Linked DNA regions of Homo sapiens. The protein of the gene in region 2 purifies or fractionates together with the protein of the main gene of each other region. This does not show direct contact. Each region holds a gene or a part of one and is shown on either strand. Other genes may lie near its edges.

What was found.
Region 1: the proteins of BPHL (region 2) and SETD3 purify together in Homo sapiens (affinity purification with mass spectrometry; 2 studies listed by BioGRID and IntAct, with this or other methods). This does not show direct contact.
Region 3: the proteins of BPHL (region 2) and PPP5C purify together in Homo sapiens (affinity purification with mass spectrometry; 2 studies listed by BioGRID and IntAct, with this or other methods). This does not show direct contact.

Annotation. Positions count from the first base shown.
Region 1 is NC_000014.9:99,456,835-99,463,936, forward strand, and holds part of SETD3 (actin-histidine N-methyltransferase), read right to left. Parts: intron 6,745-7,102; coding exon 6,652-6,744; intron 4,507-6,651; coding exon 4,358-4,506; intron 2,352-4,357; coding exon 2,279-2,351; intron 1,702-2,278; coding exon 1,445-1,701; intron 1-1,444. UniProt on the Homo sapiens protein: Protein-histidine N-methyltransferase that specifically mediates 3-methylhistidine (tele-methylhistidine) methylation of actin at 'His-73'. Histidine methylation of actin is required for smooth muscle contraction of the laboring uterus during delivery.
Region 2 is NC_000006.12:3,113,874-3,121,749, reverse strand, and holds the start of BPHL (serine hydrolase BPHL isoform 1 precursor), read right to left. Parts: upstream 3,010-7,876; coding exon 2,903-3,009; intron 2,466-2,902; exon of another isoform or gene 2,294-2,465; coding exon of another isoform or gene 2,238-2,293; intron 1-2,237. UniProt on the Homo sapiens protein: Specific alpha-amino acid ester serine hydrolase that prefers small, hydrophobic, and aromatic side chains and does not have a stringent requirement for the leaving group other than preferring a primary alcohol.
Region 3 is NC_000019.10:46,342,182-46,350,147, reverse strand, and holds the start of PPP5C (serine/threonine-protein phosphatase 5), read right to left. Parts: upstream 3,062-7,966; 5' UTR 3,052-3,061; coding exon 2,931-3,051; intron 1-2,930. UniProt on the Homo sapiens protein: Serine/threonine-protein phosphatase that dephosphorylates a myriad of proteins involved in different signaling pathways including the kinases CSNK1E, ASK1/MAP3K5, PRKDC and RAF1, the nuclear receptors NR3C1, PPARG, ESR1 and ESR2, SMAD proteins and TAU/MAPT.

The DNA.
Region 1 (7,102 bases), on a different chromosome or scaffold from region 2:
AGCCAAAGCTCATTCACGCCAAGTCGGTTATCAGAAGACCTGCCATCATCCTAGACCCTCCAACCTGCCAACAGAAGAGAGTCCTCTCAGAGCAGGCTACCAGCGTTTGCAAACTAGAAGCACATTAGTAAAAAGGGCCAGCTTGTAGTTCATTGTCCAGCAAGAGAAAATGACAAATACTTAGACCTACTAAAGTCAGCTTAACCTTTAGTCATGAAAGATATACCATTGAGAACTAAGAATAAAAGTATAACCCTTCCAGGTCATGAAGAGCCAAACCAACCTTAGACTGCAGGACTGCAGGTGCACACTATATGAAGAAGCAAAGTTTTGATTTGGCTTCATCAATAGTTTTTAAATTAAGCCAACTTGAAATAAAAGCTATATACATACTGTATGACCATTCCTAATGACTTCCTAAAGTTTAGAAAAACCGAGTGATTGATTTCCACATGAAGACAACAGTCATGTATAATTTTTGACATATTTGAAGTGCTTGCTGGAGGAGGAGATGTAACTGAGTGTAACATTCTTGTGTAGTAAGCATGCTACAAAGTGAAAATAATAAACGGAAAGCAATATCACCTGTAGCAATGAAATGAGGTTACCACTTCTTGCAAATAAAACATAGCAAGGATAGACCATTTAAGGAACAACCAAATCAAACCTAATTCAGGTTGTCACACCAACCAAAGACAAGGAAAGCGAGCAAGTAGTTCACCTGCCCACTTGTCGTATCTCAAGAACAGCAGCCCAGGAGCTGACTCTTGAGTGATTCAGATTGTGCAGAATCAGGAGAAGGAGCCACACTGCCTCTCAGTCCTGGTGGGGACTGTGGTACTGGCCCTGTTCCTTCTGACTGCTGTTCAACTGCAAATGAAAGATAACGGTGGCCACACCACCAAAATACAGAAAGGTGTCATCACAGGTAATTCAAATACTTGGAGCCTTATAGAGATTTCTATGAGAAACTTTCACTGAGAACAAATTAAAATTAATACACAGTACACGTTGAAAAACATAAATGTTATAATTTGCTAAATTAACTGTCAATATTTTACACTAACATATATAGAAAAAAATTAACCCTCATTTTCTTGAAAAATTTATACACAGAGTAACTTATTGCATTAGATATGCTTTAAGGCTTTTAAAATTTCATTGTGATCTTTTGTTTACAAAAAAACTTGGTGATTTCAATAACTCAGGAACAACTGCTGCTTGTATTAACACTGGGCACTGATGAAATCAGATATATATATGTAACCGCATTTCATTGATATTTCTGTAAAAACAAACGATGAAATGTATTTTATATTTTCAATTTAAAAAGTAAAATGTTTAAGTATCCTTAATAAGACATCAAATGGAATATTTATGGACTCAATTCCTCTTTCCTCCCCACTCTGTGAAATATATACTTAAATTGCAAACAGCTGCTCACCTGGATGACTTTATAGAAGTAGGCGTACTGTCGAGCTGTGTTTTTATACTGGCTGAAGACATCATGTATAGCTTGTGTGGACTGAAGATACCGAACTTCATCTTCTTCAAAGTAGAGAGGAGTGTCATATTCACTGGGGAGGGTTTGAATATAGGGCTGCCAGAAGGAGTTAGGGCTGGCTCGCTCACACAGCAAATGAAAGGCCAGTGCGATGTTTCCCATGGCTTGAAGGATTCGGTCTTGAGAATATAAGGGCCCTGAATTAACCCAGAAGTTAACAGCGTAAGTTCCACAAACTTCTTAAAAACTTCATTTAAATATACGTTTACAAATTACAGAAAAACTAAAAGGTCTTGTAACATTTAAAGTCAGGTACAGGCTGGGCGCAGTGGCTCACACCTGTAATCCTAGCACTTTGGGAGGTCAAGGTGGGAGGATTGCTTGAGCTCAGGACTTTGAGACCAGCCTGGGCAATATAGCAAAACCCCATCACTACAAAAAAAAAAAAAAAAAAAAAATTAGCCAGATGTAGTGGTGCACACCTGTGGGAGAATCATTTGAGCCTGGGAGATCAAGGCTGTAGTGAGCTATGATGGTGCCAGTGTACTCCAGCCTAGGTGACAAAGCGAGACCCTATCTCAAAAATAATAATAATAATAAATAAAGGTCATGTGCATCTTTTTTATAACATTAAATGAAAAACACTTAATGCATATTTGAGGGAATATTTCGCCAGTCGAGAAAAACCAAGTATTATCCTTAGTGCCATAAAATGGAATTTTACATATTTTTGTCATTTGTGCTTTGCCTTGAAGAGTCAGAAATTATTCTCACCCAACACTGAATTTTTAGCAGATTCAACAGTCATTAGCAATTTTCGTGGAACCCATAAAAACAATTCTTCTGCCTAGGGAAAAAAATAATAATAGGAGAATCATCAAAACACGGTACAGTCTTCAATCCAACCATATCTACGGTCAGAAATCCAATCACACATGAAGTACAACTTAAGGCTGCATATCAGCACTTCAAATAAATATTCAAATACATTTTAAAATGTAAGCATTTATCTTATAGTTAAATGAGTAGAAGTATAGCTTAAAATCCTGTTTCCAACAGAAAAACTAAAAACTACATATGCTGAGAAGCAAATAATCAAAAAAGGGACTTTCAACTTTAACCTGAAGCAAATATAACATTTGGAGTAGAGCATAAAGGCGTTTACTGTATACTTTACTGTACTTTTAAGTTCTAAAACCAGACCAAATCAAAACAAAATTCCTGCCTCCAACAAAAACCCTAATCTGTCGATGTGAATTACTACTACTACTGAGTTTTGAAGCCAGAGTAACATTCCTTCCTCTACATACTTATCTTTAAAGCACAACAGTTACTAGTGAAATCACATGCCCAGAAGACACATTGGTTTAGAAATTTGTTTCCCAAAGCTTTTTCTCATTTTTTGGCAATACAGGCTGCTTCCTTTTGCTGTGTCCTGTGTATCTACACTGCAAAAAACATGCACATGGCGCTCCAACATGTGGGAGACAGCAAGAGGGCAGCTGTCTGCAAACCAAGAATGTCTTCACCTAAACAGACCATGCCAGCACCCTGAGATCTTGGACATTCAGCCTCCAAATTGTGAGAAATAAATGTCTGTTGTTTAAGACCTCCTCCCCAACCCTCGCCTCCCCACAAAAGCACATAGTGAGGAAAGTCCACAGCTCGGATCTTCTGGGCAGCATCCACACAAATACTGCCTTGAATCTGTCACAAGAGAAGAACATGTGGCATCTTGCTTTCACCAATGTCAACTATTAAGTTATTTGTACCTGTCTTGTCCCTTACTATATAGATTATAAGCATCATGAAGGAAGAGACTGGTTTTTTTGGAAGCAAGATACTACCATTCACACAGTAGACATTTAACAGGTATCTAATATACCAGCATGTGATTTATCAATCTATCAATGAAAGGTTAACTACAACTTAGCCAAAAATGTTGCTGGAGGTTTGAGGGGGCCCAAATAACACCCCTTCCTCCACCCAAGTTCTGAAGCAACTGAGAGAGAGATAGAATACAACAGATGGTCACCCAAAATATCACCTACTGAATCCCAGAATTAGACAGACTCCCCCACCTAGTTACAGGCAGAGCTGGATCCCCACCGCCCTCCCCACATGTGGCCTGCCCCTGCAAAGCTTCCAGGGCAGAGAGCAGAGTGGAATGAATGCATACGGGCAACTAGCTCCCATCGAGAAAAAGGCCAAGTCCAGTTCCTTCTCCCAAACTTGGCCAACAGATGAAGGAGTGCCTCCTCTTAGAAGAGACATGAGTGAGGGGTGAGAAGAGGCCAGGCATGGCCAGTGACTGCTGCTCCCTTCATGTGGAAAGAAGAACCAAGAACCAAGAGGGGAGAAAAAGCCCTTCTTCCTTAGTAGGTGGCTGTTTCTCTCTCCTCTCCCTATTGCCACTGGTATTGCCATTTCAGTGAGCTCCTAGTACCTTCAGCCTCATAGTCATCCATTTCAGACACTAGTAGGCATACCCACACCGCCAGTCCTCCACCCACTCACCTCCAGTAAGTTACAAAATCCAAACCATGAGTCCACCTCCTTATCTTTAGGTAAATCTCAAAATCCTGTGAGGCATGTTCTATGGTCTCCTAACAGAGGCTCAGAAATGTGAACTGACTTGCCCCAGTCACTGATTAGCAACTTGGCTCCCCAGGAGGATAAGGTGGGAGGAGCTGCTTAGAACATGAGCCCAAGGCCCTTCCAGGCTGCCTATCTGCCCACAGGCTCAGAACTAGAACTCCCCCACCACACGTCTACCTCTTCACCCTGCGCCCTCTACAGCACACCACAGTTCAAACACATAGACCCCTTGAGACCAACATTTTATAAACTCACCTTGATATCTCTTGTTGCTCTCAAACCAAAGCCCTCTTCTTTGAAGTTAACCATTTCAAAACCCTCGACAGAAGCCCCATTTTCAGAGGCCCATTTCATTAGATCAGGAAAGTAATCTTCTCTTTTTCCATCAAAAGTAACGGACAGACCTATATTAATCCACGTTTTAGAAAACAAGAGCTACTTTTAGGACACATATCATTCACACGTCTCTCAGAAAATAAAAACAGGCCATAACTAACACTGGAAATAGTCTTAACACGCCAATCTTGAAATCAAAACTAATCACCAGATGGTCACAGTACATACCTTAACTGGTGACAGGGAAGAAGAATTAAAATCCTAAACTCCCTGTCAGTTACAGTGAAATATATACTGACACTAGGTAATATAAATATTGACTATTAGGTACTATTAGGTAATACGATGGCAAAGGGCAGAGAGCTTCTATTACCACTACTATGATTTACAGAGCAGTTTTCTCCTTAAAAGTCAAACATGCCACCTCTCATGTTCACATTTGCTTTAACAAAATTTCCATTAAAACAAAAATGAGTAGCTCGCGTATGTGCACAAGGAGACATGGGAAAGGATGAGCCCCACAGCCCTGATTCTAAGAACACAAAACTGTAGAGCTGTAAGCCAGAAGGCTGTAAGGCAATTTAAATGAGCTAGAGCTATGTGTATCAACATAAGTATAACACTAAATGTACCACAGTGGCTTTTAAAAAATCACGTAATATGACACCATTTATGTAAATTTTTCAAATATCAATTACAACCATATATTTTTATGGGGTTATTTATGAAGTAGAAAACATTCACAGTGAAGATGAACACCCTGCAAGGAGGGAGGGAATGGAAGGGGATGAAAATGTGAGGCTTTGGCTGTATCTGTGATGTTTTATTTCTTAAAAACAAATACAAAAACAAAACCAAGGGCTGAGGAAGGGAAAGGAAAGCTGATCAGTGGGTGAGAATAAAAGAAAGGACAATGAGAATACAACTTTGACATGTGCTCAGCTGGGGTAGCAGATTCTTGGACATCTGTTATATTAATTTCTGAACTTTTCAGCATGTCCTATGTAGTCAAAAAGATGAAAAGACATGCATAGAAAAAACTATTCTGTTTGGATGAATAAAAGGAGGGGAACAGGAACTTTACTATGAGGAAGCTGGGTGTGGCACATAGCTCAGGCGCCTGTGGCCATCTTACCACAGCATAATTAACAGTCAACCTGATATGTGAAGAGGGCATGCTGGATATGCGAAGATACCTGCTAAATGGCGAAAATGACCAGAATGAGGAATATTCAAAGACGGAACTTCCTATTCACTCCTTGAGAACTGGCAAATGCTTTACCCTCAGTGTCAGGTATAGTAAACAGTATCTACGCAGAAGAGAAACTAAGGCGCTACCCACTTGGTGACAAAGGATTAGCACAGACTCCTATTTAGTGCAAATAAACCCATTATGAAGGAACCTGTTTGAAAACACCCATTATGAACTCACCATTTTGGAGTCTGAGACCATCTAAACTGAAGACTACATGTTTAGAGATGTGTATGGAAGAGCAATAAAACCACTACTTAAAGAGAGCAAATAAAAAACAAACCCTCTCCTGAGGCCCTTCATGACAATAAGAAAGGGCCCCACATTCCAATGCATGCTCCTTAGGATGTTTTCTGCTTCTACCTTCCATGTGGTCCTGCATAATAATCTTTACTTTTTGTGCTTTACAGAACAAAAACAATAGGTATAGTGAATGAGCTTTTTCAAACTCACACTTAGCCCCACGCCAGCCTGGATGAGAATCATTACAATGGCGACTGCATACGTCCTGTAAAAACACAGCTTAAGGAATATGACCACACCTCTTATTTAACTGAGATGTGTGTGAGTTCATTATAAACCTTGCTAATGCATTAACCAATCAGCATTTATTTGTTATTGACGATATACACTATATGCACTGTCCTGAAACTCAAAAGGAAATAACGGTATAATACTTTATAAAATGTAAATAAATAAAATTGTATCATTTTAGCACCCAGATACAAACATTTTATTCTCCTAAAGCTCAACATTCTCACCCTTTCCGAAGCAGGTAATAGCATCTCAGAAAGGGGAGAAATCCCGCTAACTGCTCTCTCTCCCGGTCTGCAAGCCCCAGTACAAGACCTTTCAGAGTGACACCAATGATGCTGAGACCTTTACTACTCGTCAACCCTTTGACCTAATCAAGTTTCTACATGACATTATTAAAATACAGTTATCATTCTAGCAATTTTACCTTTTTGCTTTTTCCGTATTTTCTCAACCAGAGTCCGGATCTGCACATACTCTTCCCACTCTTTTCCTGGGCCAGGCGCCGGACTGCTGCATTCTGTAACATAAGAGGCATGGTACTGAAACACTTCTCTCTTTCAACTTAACCTACTAGTCTGCACAAGAAAGAGGATTTGGACTTTGTTGTTGCTGTTCTGGGGTTGGTTTATTTTTAAAAGACAGACATATGACAGCCATGATAATGAATGTGAGAAGTACAAGGCAGGTACACTTCTCAAAGCAGACAAACCCTGGGGCATCATAAAAACATCCCCCACTTAACGTACCCAAGAGAGAGCACTGAGCAAGCACCTAGCTCACATCCACCTTATTCTTAGTTAACTCTTTTTAGAATATACTTACTAACAGGAAAATCTATGATAAAAAGCTAAGCTAAAATGCAAACTATCCCCCCA
Region 2 (7,876 bases):
TACAGAAATATTATTAAAGGGGCATCAATGAAGCCACCAAGCAATGGCAATACTGACTCTGCCATTTACTTATTATGATTACTGCCCTATTCCTCTGAGAAATTCATTTCTACAGTTAAGATAGCTTAGGATCGGCCAGGTGTGGTGGCTCACACCTGTAATCCCGATACTTTGGGCGGCCCAGGTGGGTGGATCACGAGGTCAGGATCACGAGGTCAGGAGATCAAGACCATCCTGCCCAACATGGTGGAACGCCATCTCTACTAAAATACACACAAAAAAATTAGCCCGGCATGGTGGTGCACACCTGTAATCCCAGCTACTCAGAAGGCTGAGGCAGGGGAATCGCTGGAACCTGGGAGGTGAAGATTACAGTGAGCCGAGATCGTGCCACTGCACTCCAGCCTGGTGACAGAGAGAGACTCCGTCTCAAAAAAAAAAAAAAAAAAAAAAAAAAAGAAACTGCTATTATCATATTGTATGTTCAGCTATTTCTTTTGTGTATGTTTTGTGAAGTAGCCATTATCTACAATAAAGTATTTGCTACCTTCAGGGCTTGAAATTTGCATGAATCTTGATGAATTATTTTTACATCTCTTATATATTGTACTATTATATAAATATTCCCATTGTGCCTACTAATTACTTCATGTTTATTATATCCCCAGGCTTTTACATTTATTGTTTCAAATCCTCACAAAAACGCTGCAAGGCAGGAGGCTCAGAGAGGTTGAACAATCTGCCCACACTCACAGAGCTAGGAAGTGGCCACGGGGCCATTAGAACTCCAGAGGCCATGATTCCTCTCTAACCTCATGGCTGAACAGAGTCCTAAGAGGGCTCAGGCACCGGGGCCACACTCTGACTGCCAGATACAGCGTGGTGGCAAGCGTCAGCAGAAGGACAGTCTCTGATTCTCTGGCAGGGCATCCCAAGGTTGAACTTGGAAAATATTTTTTAGGAAGATTGTTAGGTTATGTGAATTATTAATATTTATAACTGCACATAATATCCAATTTCAGGTAGAAAAGGCTTTTCTTGACCTGACCCAGGAATAAATCACCTTACGGATTTTGAAATAAGGGTCAAAGTTCCAAACAGCAGACTTACAAACAAGTTTTTGGAACAAAAGTCAGTTGTAGGTTGGGCACTGGCTATTCTGAAGCAAAGTTTTTACACGAATCCTTTTACCTACTGACACTGAGCTACAGCTGCATTTCAGGATTAACTAATACCACTGCTTGTTTTCCCAGATTATATGTCATATCAACTTGCAGCTGCATTTATAAAACGGCCGTACAAAATCCAGAAAAACCTGTTTCTTCAGAGATATTTTAGGAAGAATGATCTGCAATGCAACTAGATGGATGGGGCCTTCCTCAACCATTAAATAACCTATCAGAACTATACTGGTAGGCCGAGAGCGGTGGCTCACGCCTGTAATCCCAGCACTTTGGGAGGCTGAGGCAGGTGGATCATTTGAGGTCAAGAGTTCGAGATCAGCTTGGCCAACATGGTGAAACCCCATCTCTACTAAAAACACAAAAATTAGCCGGGCATGGTGGCAGGTACCTGTAATCCCAGCTACTCGGGAGGCTGAGGCCACGAGAATCGCTTAAACCTGGGAGGCAGAGGTTGCAGTGAGCGAGATCACAACACTGCACTCCAGCATGGGCAAAAGAGCGAGAGTCAGTCTCAAAAAAAAAAAGAACTATATTGGTACAATCACAGTAACTTATTTCGATGCCTTTCTGCAGACAGGAAACTGGAAAAAATAATCATTTTCACTGTTAATTTATACAGCTGTAGCCATTAACATGTTTTTCCATCTATCAAAATAGCCCTGACCATCTTATAATAATTCTAAAATTAAAGGAGCTAGTCAATTGCAATATGAAATTTTAAAAGCTGGTCAGATTTGCCCTCTTTTCTCCTTCTAAATCAAGTTTTCAAACTAAAAGTTTCTATGTTGGATCAAGTACAGTTCTAAACGCTGTGTACCTATCTAGTACTGACTTTATGAAAGTAGCCCATCAACAGTCAACTGCGCACATGCACTGTGTACGTTCGTTGTATACGTGTGTTTGCATGTGTGTAGGGATGTATGTAGAGAATAAAGTAAAACAAGCTTCATGCCGCTCTATCCACATTTCTGCCCAGTATCTCTTGGGACCAAGAGTATCCATTTTCAAGACAGAAGGTCAGAAATTAATCCAGTTTTTTTGTTATTGTTTTACCTGAAATGGGGGGACAGGTGGGAGGACAAAAGAGAATAAAGCAGATTCCTGGGCATCTCCACACATGTAGATCAGATCCTCTGGGAGTGAGGCCCAGGATTCTGAATTTTCAGTTCCCAACGTGATTCTTTTGCACATTAAGGTACGAGATCAGCAAGCAAAGAGAAGACTTAGGGCTCTCGGGACCCGTGATTAAAGCCTTAGCGGTACTCAGGCTCAGGCTGATTTCTGACATAAGAGAAAGAAGAGATTATTGTCCTTATGCCCTTAGTGTGGACTCTGGACAGAGCAATGGACTAATGAGGGCGTTGGGATTCTAGTCCGTGCTCCGTCACGGGTGAGTCCATACTACAGGCAAATGTATCTCCCTGGGTCTCTCTGGTCTGCACACTGAAGGGGCTGCACTCTATAGCCCAAGCCTCCACGGCTCCAGACTCCTTGAACTGAGGCTGACCGAGGCGCATGCACGATCGAGGGGCTCGAGCACCAAGCGCGGCTGGCCCCCAGGATCGGGGTCTCGCGGCACAAAGGGCGACAGGGCAGCCAGGCCGCGCCCACGCCCCGTGCCCGCGCGCCGGGAACTCCTGCTGTCGGCACGCGCCCCTCCCGCCGCCCCTCGAGCGCGCCGATGCTGGGGATCCCCGGGGCGAGGTGGCCGCCATTACCCGAACGCGGCCGCGGGTCCGGCCCGTGGGACGTGGATCCCGGGCTTCAGCGCTGAGAGAAGCAGCCGCAGGCGCAACACGCCCCGGCCGCCCAGCACAGCCACCATGGTCACAGGTCGCGTAGCTGCCGGGAGTGCGCATGCGCTAAGACCAAGCGCGGTACCCGGCCCACTCTGCCCCGAAGCCACGCCCTCTGCTCCGCCCACCTCGCCTCTCCATCCTGCTCCGCCCTCTGCCCGCCCCGCCCCGAAGCCACGCCCTGCCGGGTGCTTTCCCATGGGCGACCGAAACTCGGCTCGTGGTTTCGCAGTCCTGGAACCGCCGGCACCCGCGTAGACCGTCCCCTCTCGGTGCTGGCTCTGGCTCCCGGGATGAGTGTCCCCGTCGGCGCTGCCCCGCCCTCGCTCGTCGCCTCAGCGACCATGGCCTTTCCAGGAGGCGAGGCCGCCAGCCATAGCGCCCTCGCTGCGTCGGCGTCCAGGCGGGACTCCGGAGTGGGCGGGGCTCCGGCTCTAGGCAGGCTGCTATGTTGGATCAAGTAAAGTTCTAAACGCTGTGCACCTATTTAGTACTGACTAGTACTAGGAAGTGTATTTGCTTTTCGGAGATGATGGGATCTAAATTTTGTTTATACCACTTCACGCCCATTAGGATGGCTACTAGCAAAACCCCCAGAAATTAGTGTTGGTGAAGATGTAGAGAAATTGAAGCCCTTGTATATTGCTGTTGGGAATGTAAAATGGTGCAGCCATGTGATGAACAATACTGCGGTTCCTCAACAAATCAGTTATATGATCCAGCATTTTCTTTTCTGGGTATATAACCCAAAAGAATTTAAAACAGGGTGTACAAGAAGAAATGTTTTTACACTCACGTTGACAGCGGCACTATTCACAATAGCCAAAAGGGTGGAGGCAATTTAAGTGTCCAAAAACAGATACATGGATAAGCAAAATGTTGTCTGTGCATGCAAGGGAACATTTTTTAGCCTGAACAAAGAACGAAATTCTGACACTTGCTACTACATGGATGAACCTGGAGGACACTATGCTGAGGGAGGTAAGCCAGTCAAAAAAAGACAAATACTGTGTGATTCCACTTATATAATAAGGTACCTAGAGGAGTCAAACTTATAGGGACAGAAAATAGAATGGGGGTTGTTGAGGGCTGGTGGAAGGGGGAATGGAAAGTTGGTGTTTCATGGGGACAGAGTTTCAGTTTGGAGAGATGAAAAAGTCCTGGGGATGGATTTTGGTGATGCCTGCATTACATTGTGAGTGTACTTACTGCCACTGAACTACACACCTAAAAGTGGTTTAAGTGGTAAGTTTTATGTATGTTTTACCACAATTAATTTTTTTTCTTTTGGCTGTATAATTGCAGCTTTATAAAGGTTATAGACATTATCTAATTGAAAGCTCAGTGGAGAAAAAAAACAACTATTGCTTTTTAAGTCAATCGTTCTGCCTTAATTGGAAATAACTGGCAGATTTGTGGCTACTGTTGTAGCCTTGGCTTGAATAATTGGAGACAACAGCTTCTTTGCATATTGCATTTCTTCTCCTCCAAGAGACCTTTTTGGTGTAACAGTCAGTCCTGTGAGCACAGTGCTTGTAGGTGTTACACTCATAGAAATTTCTGTCACCTGCAGTGTCCTCACTGGCCCATTGGACTTTCTTGAGTAGTAAAGGCAGTTTTGGCCTAAATACAGACTATGCAAAAGTTTTCATATTCTACTCTCAACATAAATCTATCACATTAATTCCTGCATAAAAGGAAAGAGACATATATAATGTTTGAGTTTAATATCGTTTGACTTTCAGAAATCTTTGGTGAGGTCAGTATTTCCTTTTTTCCTGATATGTTGATTGGGGTTTCATCTCAGAAATGATAAAAATAGCTGTCTGTACAGTTTCAACACCAGTTACCCTTGTGCTAATAAAAAACGGTAGCACTGAGTTTTAGGTTATTGGTGTCACAATTTTTTTTTTTTGAGACGGAGTTTTGGTCTTGTTGCCCAGGCTGGAGTGCAATGGCGCAATCTCAGCTCACTGTAACCTCTGCCTCGCAGGTTCAAGCAATTCTCCTGCCTCAGCCTCCTGAGTAGCTGAGATTACAAGCACCCGCCACCATGCCCGGCTAATTTTTGTAATTTTAGTAGAGACGAGGTTTTGCCATGTTGGCCAGGCTGGTCTCAAACTCCTGACCTCAGGTGATCCACCCGCCTCAGCCTCCTAAAGTGCTAGGATTACAGGTGTGTGCCACCGCGTCCAGCGTGGTGTCACTATTTTTAAGTAACATACCTGACAACCAGTTCTTTATATATAGCAAGATCGTACAGTTTAAAAAAACTGCCATTTTTGTGCCAGGCACCTTATGATATATCATATTTCTTTAATCTTCACATTAGCCTTCTGTGCTATTGCACTCTCCATTTATAGATGAGGCAACTGAGGCTAAGAAAGGTTAGGAAGCAAGCCCTAGGTAACACAGCTGAAAAGTAATTTTGAGCTGCTCAATTTCAGGACTCTATACTTGCATAATGACGGCGAAAGGTTAGGAAGCAAGGCCTGGGTAACACAGCTGAGAAGGGGCAGGGGGGAGTTTTGAGCTCTCAATTTCAGGACTCTATACTTGATGATGATGATGATGATTGCTATTATTATTGAGGCACGGTGTGATCACAGCTCCCCACAGCCTCAAACTCCTGGGCTCAAGTGATCCTCCCACCTTAGCCTGCCAAGAAGCTAGGACTACAGGCATACACCACCACACCTGGCTAATATTTTTTAATGTTTTTGTGGAGATAGGGTCTTGCTGTGTTGTCCACACTGGTCTCGAACTCATGGCCTCAAGCGATCCTCCCAGCTTGGCCTCCCAAAGTGCTGGGATTACAGGCATGAGCCACTATACCTGGTCGTATACTTGGATTATTGCATATTGTAAAAATCACTGTAGTAGCATTAACCTTTCAGTGATTTCTCTGAAATCAGCTGCTTCTAAAATCTTGAATATTTACACTATTTATGCCTTTATTATAATTAGAAAACCCTTTCCCTTTCATAAATACCACACATTAAAATGTACATCAAAATACTGCCTAAAATATTTTGTGATTTATTAAACATTTTATTCCTGAAACCCTAACCTCACGTGACAGACCCAAAGCAAAGATGATGATTGTAGCAACAAGTAGAAAATCTACCAAGCAGGACTGTGGGAGCTGGAAGGAGGTCTCCGTTACCAGCAATAACCTAGGGTGTGAGTATTTGTTTCCGAACCAAGTGCGGACAGTCTCGGTTCTGCTTTGCTGGTCTGTGTCGTCATTGGCTCTGCCCATTAACAGCAGTGTTCTTGTGGAGCTTGGGCCTTGTACCTAACTCCTCACAGGCAAACTTGGTTCTTCTCACCATGGTGCTGAGAGAGTGGGGGTGAAGGGAAGGCCCCAGAGCCAGGCGCGGGGACAGCAGTGCTGCAGGCCTCTCATCCTGAGCGCCAAAATGCACTGGCAGGGAGGTGTTCTTACCATCAGCATCCCGTCTCCTGCTTGGCAGCGGGAGGGTAAAAGGGGATTATGCTCAGGAAATGCGGCCTCAGTGGCAGAGGCACCATGGAGAATCCGCATCTGTCCCAGTGACACATCACATCAATAGCCTAAAGTTGTGGTATAAATTTTTATTTTAAAAAGTGTTAAAAAATGCCTTGCCCTCTTGCCTTTGAACATTAATTATTCAACCTCTTTGGAATCTAAGAGATTTGATAACACCATTTGGATGGTGGTACAAGGAGCAAACAGAACTCACCCAGGCCCCTCCAGCAAAGCCTGGAGCCTCCCTCCATTCTCCCTTTTGGGCTGTAGGAGCCAAGGCTGCGTGGTGGCCAAGTAGTAACCGGACAGGTGCAGACAGGAGAGCCGAGGCTCATTACTTTACAGCAGTGCTCTTCTCAACCGGGGCAATTTTCCCCTTTCCTTGGACCATTTGACAATGTTTAGAGACTATTGTCACAACTGGGGCGGGGGGCTGGGGAGAACAGTGCCCCTGGCATCTAGTAGGTGGGGGCAGGGATGCTACTAAACATCCTACAAGGAACAGGACAGTCCCCACAACAGAATTACCCAGGCCGAGATGCCGACAGTGGCAAGGCTGAGACAGCCTGCTCTGCAGCCCCATTTCAGGGGTGTGTATGTGTCTGCTAGAGTTGAGGGGATTCACAATCAGAATCAACAACACTGTTATCAGCCCAAGACACCAGAATCTGTTCCGACAGCCAGATTGACCATCACCACACCCTTCTCGCCCTCCCTCTGGGGAGAGCTAAGCACACAGCCTTCCTTGTCGGTTTAGCAAAATGCCAGTGGACACTGAGCGGCCTACCCAGCTTCAGTCTTCTATTCTAGTTCTTTCATCCACCCCCAGGTTTCAGGTGGGCTTTGAAAGGCTGGGTGCTAGAGGCACAATTACCACACTCAGAAGCTGTCCTTTTTCACTCTGGCACACAGAAAAAATATGAAAATACTTTCACAGTACACAGAGTAAACCGAGGAAGCCACTCAACAGTATCAGCCCTGAGGTTCTGGTCTCACCCAGGGGTAGAGATCAGCATTTCCTGTTCCCTCTCCAGGGCACTCAGGCTGGGTGAAGGTACCAGAATGCCAGGAAATAACTTTAAAAGTCAATCAAGAATTTTTGTTGTAGTCACGGTTAGTACCAATTCCTTGCAACAACTGCCTGGGAAATTCTGATGTTTCCCCCCTCCTTGGTACCCCTTTAAATCCATTCAGTTAATTTGAAGACTCAATATAAATTCAATTCATTAAAAAATAATCGATAATTTAATGGGCTGAAGACTGCACGTGGTTCTTAGAGCCTACAGTGGCTGACAGAGTATTGGGTATTAACGTTAACGGATCCTGTGATGTGGCGGTGAGCTGCAGCTGTGATCCACGAAGTCTCTGAACAGGGCTTAGAATCT
Region 3 (7,966 bases), on a different chromosome or scaffold from region 2:
TCCACCTGGCCTCGCAGCCTCTTGTCCTGCCCCTCCAGAGGGGTGTTCCTAAAACACAAACCTGACCCTGTCCTTTCCCTACTCAGAACCTCCCAGGGCTCCCCAGAGCCCCACCCCCCACCGCCACCCCACCCCAGAAAGCCCTGGCTCCTTCCTACAGCCCTGCGCAATCTACTCCCTGCAAACTCATCATAACCTCCTCCAGCCTCCTACGCTGTGGCCCCACTTATGGCCTCCATGCCTGGCTCTGCTCACCTTTGGGCCTTTGCCACCTGTTTTTGTTTTTTTTTTCCCTGCCTGGAGTACCGTCCACCCTCTCTCCAGGCAGCCACTCTCACTTCCTCCCTGAAACACTTCTTGAATCTATTTCTGTCCCTCCAGCCTGGCTGGCGATCACCACCCCTCCTCACCTGTCCACTAATCTAGACTCCTTCCTGTCTTACCCTGGAGTCCAGTCTCTGCATGGCAGCCAGGGATCTTTTCTGAACACTAACTGAACCACAGCACCCCGCTCTTGAAACTTCCCATGGCATCGACCACCCCCAGGATGACACCCATATTCCCCAATCTGACTTCCAAGGTTCTACCTCTGGCCTCATCTCTCACTGGTCCTACCTCCCTCTCACGGCTCCCACCGGATCGAGCTTCTCCACACTTTGCTTCTGCTCCCGTTGGAGGCCAAGTCTCTTCCAGGGCTCCAGACCCTTCCCACCTCCGCCTTCTCCAGGGTTTTGCTGCTGCAAGTCCCCCCTCTCCTGTGCAGAATCAATTCTCCATCTCTATTGGACTCTACTCTCTTCCATCCTTACAAAAAATCCATCTTTCCCTGACACTGCATCTTCTCTCTTTTTTTTTTTCTTGAGACGGAGTCTGTTGCCCAGGCTGGAATGCAGTGGTGTGATCTTGGCTCACTGCAGCCTCTGCCTCCAAGGATCAAGCAATTCTCCTGCCTCAGCCTCCCAAGTAGCTGGGACTACAGGTGTGTGCCACCACACCCAACTAATTTTTTCAGCAGAGACGTCGTTTCACCATGTTGGCCAGGTTGGTCTCGAACTCCTGTGCACGTTCTCGTCTTACCACCCTCCCCCATTTCTCCACTCCCCTTCAGAACCAATACTCCTAACACTTAACATTTGCTGTCTCCACTTCCTCCCCTCCCATTCACTCTTCAGCACCTCCTGGCTGCATCACCCCCATCACTCCCCAATAACTGCTCCTGTCAACATCACTACCAGCATCCATGGAGCCAAAGCCAATGGCCAGTGCTTGCCTTGGCAGCATCGGACTAAAGGCACCAGCTCCTTGTTCTAGAAGCGCTCCCTTCTCTCAGCCTTCCCGACACCTTTCCTGGCTTCCTTTCCACCTCACTAAGTGCTCCTCCTTAGCCTCACCCTCTTCCATTTGGGTTCTGTCCTAAGTCCCCCCTCTAGACCCTCTTACTAGATGATCTCATCCATTCCCAACCATAGTTTGATCACACCCAAATTCTTCTCCAGTCCAGACTGGCCCATTTACTTAATGTGTCTTCTTGTAGGGCTGGGCGTGGTGGCTCATGCCTGTAATCCCAGCACTTTGAGAGGCCGAGATGGGCGGATCACCTGCGGTCAGAGGTTCGACACCAGCCTGGCCAACATGGCGAAACCCCATCTCTACTAAAAGTACAAAAATTATCTGGGCATGGTGGTGTGCGTCTATAATCCCAGCTACTCGGGAGGCTGAGGCAGGAGAATCGCTTGAACCAGGGAGGCGGAGGTTGCAGTGAGCCGAGATTGCGCCATTGCACTCTAGCCTGGGCAAAAAGAGCAAAACTCCCGTCTCAAAAAAAAAAAAAAAAAAAAAATTCCAAACTGGTCTTTGTAATGACTCACGGAGACCCTGCATGATCTGGCCTCTGTCCTAATCTCATCTTGTTATTGGTCTCCCCCTAAGTAGCCAAAGCCCCAGCCATGCCAGTACCCTTTCATTCCCCATCCCAGGGCCTTTGCACAGGCTGCTTTACCTCCCTGGAACACTCCTCTCCAGTTCTCCCTCTGTGAGTTTCAGCTTAAACGCCTCCTGCTCAGTAAGGCCTTCCCCCACTACCCTATCTAAAGTAGCCTCCAACCCTTATTCTCTACTTCATCACACTGCTGGTTTGCTTTCAAAGCACTCATCACAATTTAAGTATTTTACTTATTTACATGGTTTTTTTTTGTTTTTTTTTTTTTCATGTCTGGTTCACCTGCAAAATTACAAGCTAAGGACAGGGCCACATCTGTCTCATTCACTGCTATATCCCCAAAGTCAAGCACAGTCCTTGGCACATAACAGGTACTCAATAAATATTTGTTGAATTAATGAATGAATGGGTGCCCCACACTTGACTCTCAATATTCTAAGTGATACTATTCTTAAGGATCCCCACCCTTACTCCCAAGGCCCCCACCATCACATTCCTTTTCCTCGGGTCAGCCCAAATCTCCTACTTCCTTGTTCCCCCCATCTAATGATCCATTCCCCACCCCCACGATTGCCTTCTCTATTGGGGCTGTGCCCCCTCTACCCCCCACTTGGCGGCACCCACCCCAGGACTCCCCATTTGGTAGCGCCATCAATCACTCCCCCACCACATGTCACTGCCTGGTAGCGCCCTCTACAGGCCTCACGTTTGGTAGCGCCCTCATTCCAGTCCCCCTCTCGCCCCACAATTGGTGGCGCCCTCCTCAGTCTCTCCACTGAGTAGCACCCGCTCCGCACGCCACTCCTAGGTATCACTCTCCGAAGCCCCCTATGTCGCTCCTTGGCAGCGCCATCCTGGGCCTCCCCACGCCCGGTCACTTGGTAGTGTCTGCCCCGCGCCCAGGCTGCAGCTCCGCGTTGCTATGGTTCCGCGCGGGCCCGGCACCCCTCAGCCTGGGCCACTGTCCACCCTCCCTGCCAGGCGGGCGCACCTTTGAAGTAGTCATTGGCCTGAGTCTTGAGCTCCTCTGCCCGCTTCAGAGCTCCATCAGCCGGGGGTTCGTCCCGGGGGGGCTCAGCACACTCAGTCCTCTCGCCCTCCGCCATCGCCATGCCGCAAAGCGACCCCTACCCTGGCAACGGCCGCCAGCGGCACCCGGCCGAACCGTCGCGAAGGAGCGCCGGGTGGCCGCCGCCGCTGCCGCACAAGTGTCGTAAAGCGCGGGCCCTGAAGGCGCCCTTCACGCGCCTGCGCAGGTCCCTTTCGCCACAGAGCGCGCGGAGGACAAGGTGACCAGAGGTTCCCCAGACGGTACCCCTGGTAGAGAGAGCCAATAGGGAATGAGAGAAGGGGCGCGCGGGGAAACAGACCTGGTGTGGCCTCTCCTCCCAAAGTTACCGTGTTCCAAGGCTGTAAAAAGTTTCTCGGTTCTGAAAGTGGGATTTCCCCGCTGTCCTCTAGGGTTGGGGGGTGGGTTGTGAATGTCGCTGGCGGGTGTGGCTGTTTTGCAAGGCAGCGCCATGCCCTACGCGGAGCCGGACCCGGGCGTCGAGCCCTATTGTCGACTACCTGTGTGACCTTGAACAAATCTTCCCTTCCTCTCTAGGGTCTCAGTTACCCATCTCTGAAAAATTAGTGGTTTCTCAAGCCAAAAAGGGTCCAACCTTGAGGGTCAGTGTTTGAGTTTTTAACTGAAGGCACTCTGGATTTCAAGTCCTGAGCAAGGCTTAGAAGTGTGTTGCACCATCTCCTTTCTTCCTGTGTTCAGCTTCCCAAATCCTGAATCTTCAAATAAACTCTCCTGTTTGTGTTTTTACAGATTCTCTTGTCTGAGATCACAGCATTGATTGCATGCACTCTGCCTCCCTCCAGTTTACCCTTCACATTTTTTTTTTTTTTTTTTTTTTTTTGAGAGGGAGTCTCCCTCTGTCGCCCAGGCTGGAGTGCAGTGGCGCCATCTAGGCTCACTGCAACCTCCGCCTCCCGGTTTAAGCGATTCTTCTGCCTCAGCCTCCCAAGTAGCTGGGATTACAGGCGCCCGCCACCATGCCCGGCTAATTTTTGTATTTTAGTAGAAACGGGTTTCACCACGTTGGCCAGGCTGGCCTCGAACTGCCGACCTCAAGCTATCCGCCCGCCTCGGCCTCCCAAAGTGCTGGGATTACAGGCGTGAGCCACCGTGCCCGGCCGAGGGATCTTTCTAAGACATGATAAAACCATGGCACACTCTCGCTCCCAGGCTTCCATGGCCCCAGCACCCTTAGGAGAAAACCCAAACTCCTGATTAGGAGACCCTGAATAGTCTTAACCTCAGGCTGAATAGTCTAATATCCAGATTCCACCCCTTTGCCAATCCCCACCCGCCGTACACGCTTCCAGTCTGTCCTTTCTAAGCCCTCATGTAGCACTAAGTCCTGTAAGGCTCTGGATCCCCTCCTGGAAGCACACTCCTAAACCTATCTATCCCACTCCCAAACCTCTTGTTAGTCCAACCCCATCTCTCCTACTGGCCCCCAGCACAACCAACAATCACCCTAAAGGGCAGATATTAGTATCATCTCCATTTTACAGATAAAGACACAGACTTGCAGAGGTGTTTGACGAAGGTCACAACAACATAAGAAGGTGACAGAGCCAGGATCAGGAATCCCATCTAATTCCTATGTCCTTCATTGCCACTCTACTGCCTCTGTAGGTGCCAGAGCCCATCTTGGTGGGTTAGTAAATTTTTCTTTTGTTTGTTCGTATTGTTTGTTTTGGGGTTGGGGGAAAAGGAGCTGCCATAGTGGATTTGAATTCTGGTTTCGAGTCCAGCGGAATCCTTCCTGACACTGTGACCTTGGGCAAGTGATCACCCTCTTCTAAGCCTCAGTTTCAACCTCTGTAAAGTGGGGATAATAATTATCCCCATCATACAGGATTAGAGGAGAGTTCGACAACATGAGTACAGCATTTGTCAGGGAGCCTGACACAGAGTAGTACTTTTATATTCACTCCATCACAAATACTCAAAGTGGGCTGGGTATGGTAGCTCATGCCTGTAATCGAAGCACTTTGGGAGGCCAAAGCAGGCAGATCACTTGAGGTCAGAAGTTCAAGACCAGCCTGGCCAACATGGCAAAACCCCGTCACTACCAGAAATACAAAAATTTAGCTGGGCATGATGGTGCGCACCTATAGTCCCAGTTATTAGGGAGGTTGAGGCAGGAGAATTGCTTGAACCTAGGAGGCGGAGGCTGCAGTGAGCCGAGATCGCGCCACTGCACGACAGCCTGGGCTACAGAGTGAGACTCTGTCTCAAAAAACAAATAAAACAAAACAAATATTCAGAGTTGGGCAGAGTGCCTAGTGCTGTGATGGGAGGGGGCTTCCAAGGGGAGCTTTTAGGGGCACTTTACCCAATTGGAGCAGGCAGGGAAGGCTTCCTGGAGTAGCTGTTACCTAAACCAAGATGTGAAATATGAGTAGGAGGTAACCAAGTGAGGGGAGAGGGGAAGGGAGAGAGGCATTTCAGGCAGAAGAATAGGAAGTGCAAAGGCTTGAGAGTGTTTTTCTTCCCTTGAAGAGATTCCTATGTGCAACCCTGTATGGGGGGTTATGAGAGTGACGTACATGACAACAGACACACCCACCTGCACATGAGTCCATGGACACACACTCTTGCACACACATGCTCACTTAACTATGGGCAATCATGTCACACACACATTGGTACCCAGAATTATAGCATCAAGCAGTCCCACACATGTACACAGAATCACATCATACAGACATACATAGGCAAAAAAAAAAAAAAAAAATCACAGCACCTTCCACACTCAGAAACACAGAAACCCAAAATAACCAGAAACACACATAAGGCAGAATCACTTCACCCAGATACTAATATGCACTTGTAGAAGGAATCACAACCCCACCCACCTGCTGCAACACAGGTTCACAGAATGTGACAAAGACCCATACACATACACAGAATGACACTGTGCACACACTCGTGTGCATGCACACACACACACACATACAGATACACAGAATCAGAAAGTAACATGGGGCTGGTGCAGTGGCTCAAGCCTATAATCCTAGAACTTTGGGAGGCTGAGGCAGGAGGATCGCTTAAACCCAGGAGTTTGAGACCAGCCTGGGCAACATGGTAAGGCTCTGTCTCTACAAAAAAATGAAAATAATTAGCTGGGCCTCGTGTCATGCACCTGTAGTCCCAGCTACCGGGAAGGGTGAGATGGGAGGATTGCTTGAGCCCAGGAGGCTGCAGTGAGCCGTGATCACACCACTGCACTCCAGCTTGGGTGAGATAGTGAGACCCTGTCTCGAAAGAAAGAAAGGGCCTGGCATGGTGGCTCATGCCTGCAATCCCAGCACTTTGGGAGGCCGAGGCGGGCAGATTACCTGAGTTCAGGAGTTCGAGACCAGCCTGACCAATGTGGTGAAACCCCATCTCTATTAAAAACACAAAAATTAGCTGGGTGTGGTGGCACATGCCTGAAATCCCAGCTACTTGGGAGACGGAGGCAGGAGAATCGCTTGAACCTGGGTAGTGGAGGTTGCAGTGAGCAGAGATTGTGCCACTGCACTCCAGCCTGGGCAACAGAGTGAGACTCCAAGAAAAAAAAAAAAAGAAAAGAAAGAGAGAGAGCGGAAGGAAGGAAGGAAGGAAGGAAGGAAGGAAGGAAGGAAGGAAGGAAAAAAAAAAAGACACTCAGCCACCAGTGCACCCACACTCCCAGAGGAGATCCAAAAGATGAGTCAACACGCAGAGCTCTGGTGCCTACCAAGGTGAGGTCTTTATGGTGTATAGAGATTGGTGAGTTTCAGAGCCAGTGTGGCCAGTCTAGTCCCTCCCCTTTCCCTAGCCCAGCACAATTCCCTCCATTGAGGGCCCACATCACCTCCAGAGGGAGGAGGGAGGGGTCAGACCCCCCCATAGCACCAATCTGGATAGGCCACTCTCTGACAAAACAGAGCGAGCAGTGCCTTCCACAAACGGGGTAAATGGGGCTAAGAAGGGGGGAGGCCTTTTCCTGTGGGAGACCAAGAGTAGCACCATCTGTAGAAAGAAAGCTGGGGGGTAAGGGAGGCACATAGATGGTGGCAGACAGCTGAGGGGTCCTGGCTTCTCTCCCCACCTGGCAATATGCAGACAGCACCGTGCCTGTGCATGTGCCTGTGTGGCTGGAGAAGTCTTCAGATTGCAAACCACCCAAGGGGTGAGGGAGCCCCAGGTGCCCCAAACATGTGGGGTAAAGTCAAGGTAAGTGCATGTCTGGAGGGCTGGGGTGGGAAGTGGAGGGGGTTCTGGGGCACAGAGATTGTAGGCAATGAGAATGGAGAGGCATGAAGTCCAGGAGCAGCACAGCCTAGAGGGTAGGGGTTTAGAATGGGAAAACTTAAGACTGAAAGAAGGAATTGGGTAAGTTCAGTGGGGTGGGAAGCCCAGAATAGATTTAGGAGGCTGGGGTCTGGAATTAGGGAGTTGAGGTTATAAGATTCAGAACCAGAGGAATCTTTAGGGAAAAGTCTAGATTCCAGAATCAGAAGCATTTGGAGGCTGAATTATAGAATCAGAGGAATTTGGATCTGAAATCAAAGGCAGTTGGAAGCTGTGAGGCTTAGAAGCAGAGGAATTTATAGAATAAAGCATAGAATTAGAAAAAGCCTGGCTGGGCTCAGTGGCTCATGCCTGTAGTCCCAGCACTTTGGTGAGGCCAAGGAGGGAGAATTGCTTGAGCTCAGTAGTTCGCGACCAGCCTGGGCAACATGGTGAAACCCCGTCTCTATTTTTTTTTTTTTAACAAAAAAAAGGAAAAACAAAAGCCTAAAATCTGAGTTCTAGAACCAGAGAGATTTGGGAACCATAAGATCTAGAATCAGAAGGAGTTGAGGGTGGTAAGATCTAAAACCAGAGAAATGTATAAGGCAAAGTCTAAAATCAGAAGATATTTGAAGGCTGAATTCTAGACCCAGGGTAATTTGGAGTCAGATCTTGAGTGAGGAGGAGCTGGAAATGATGAA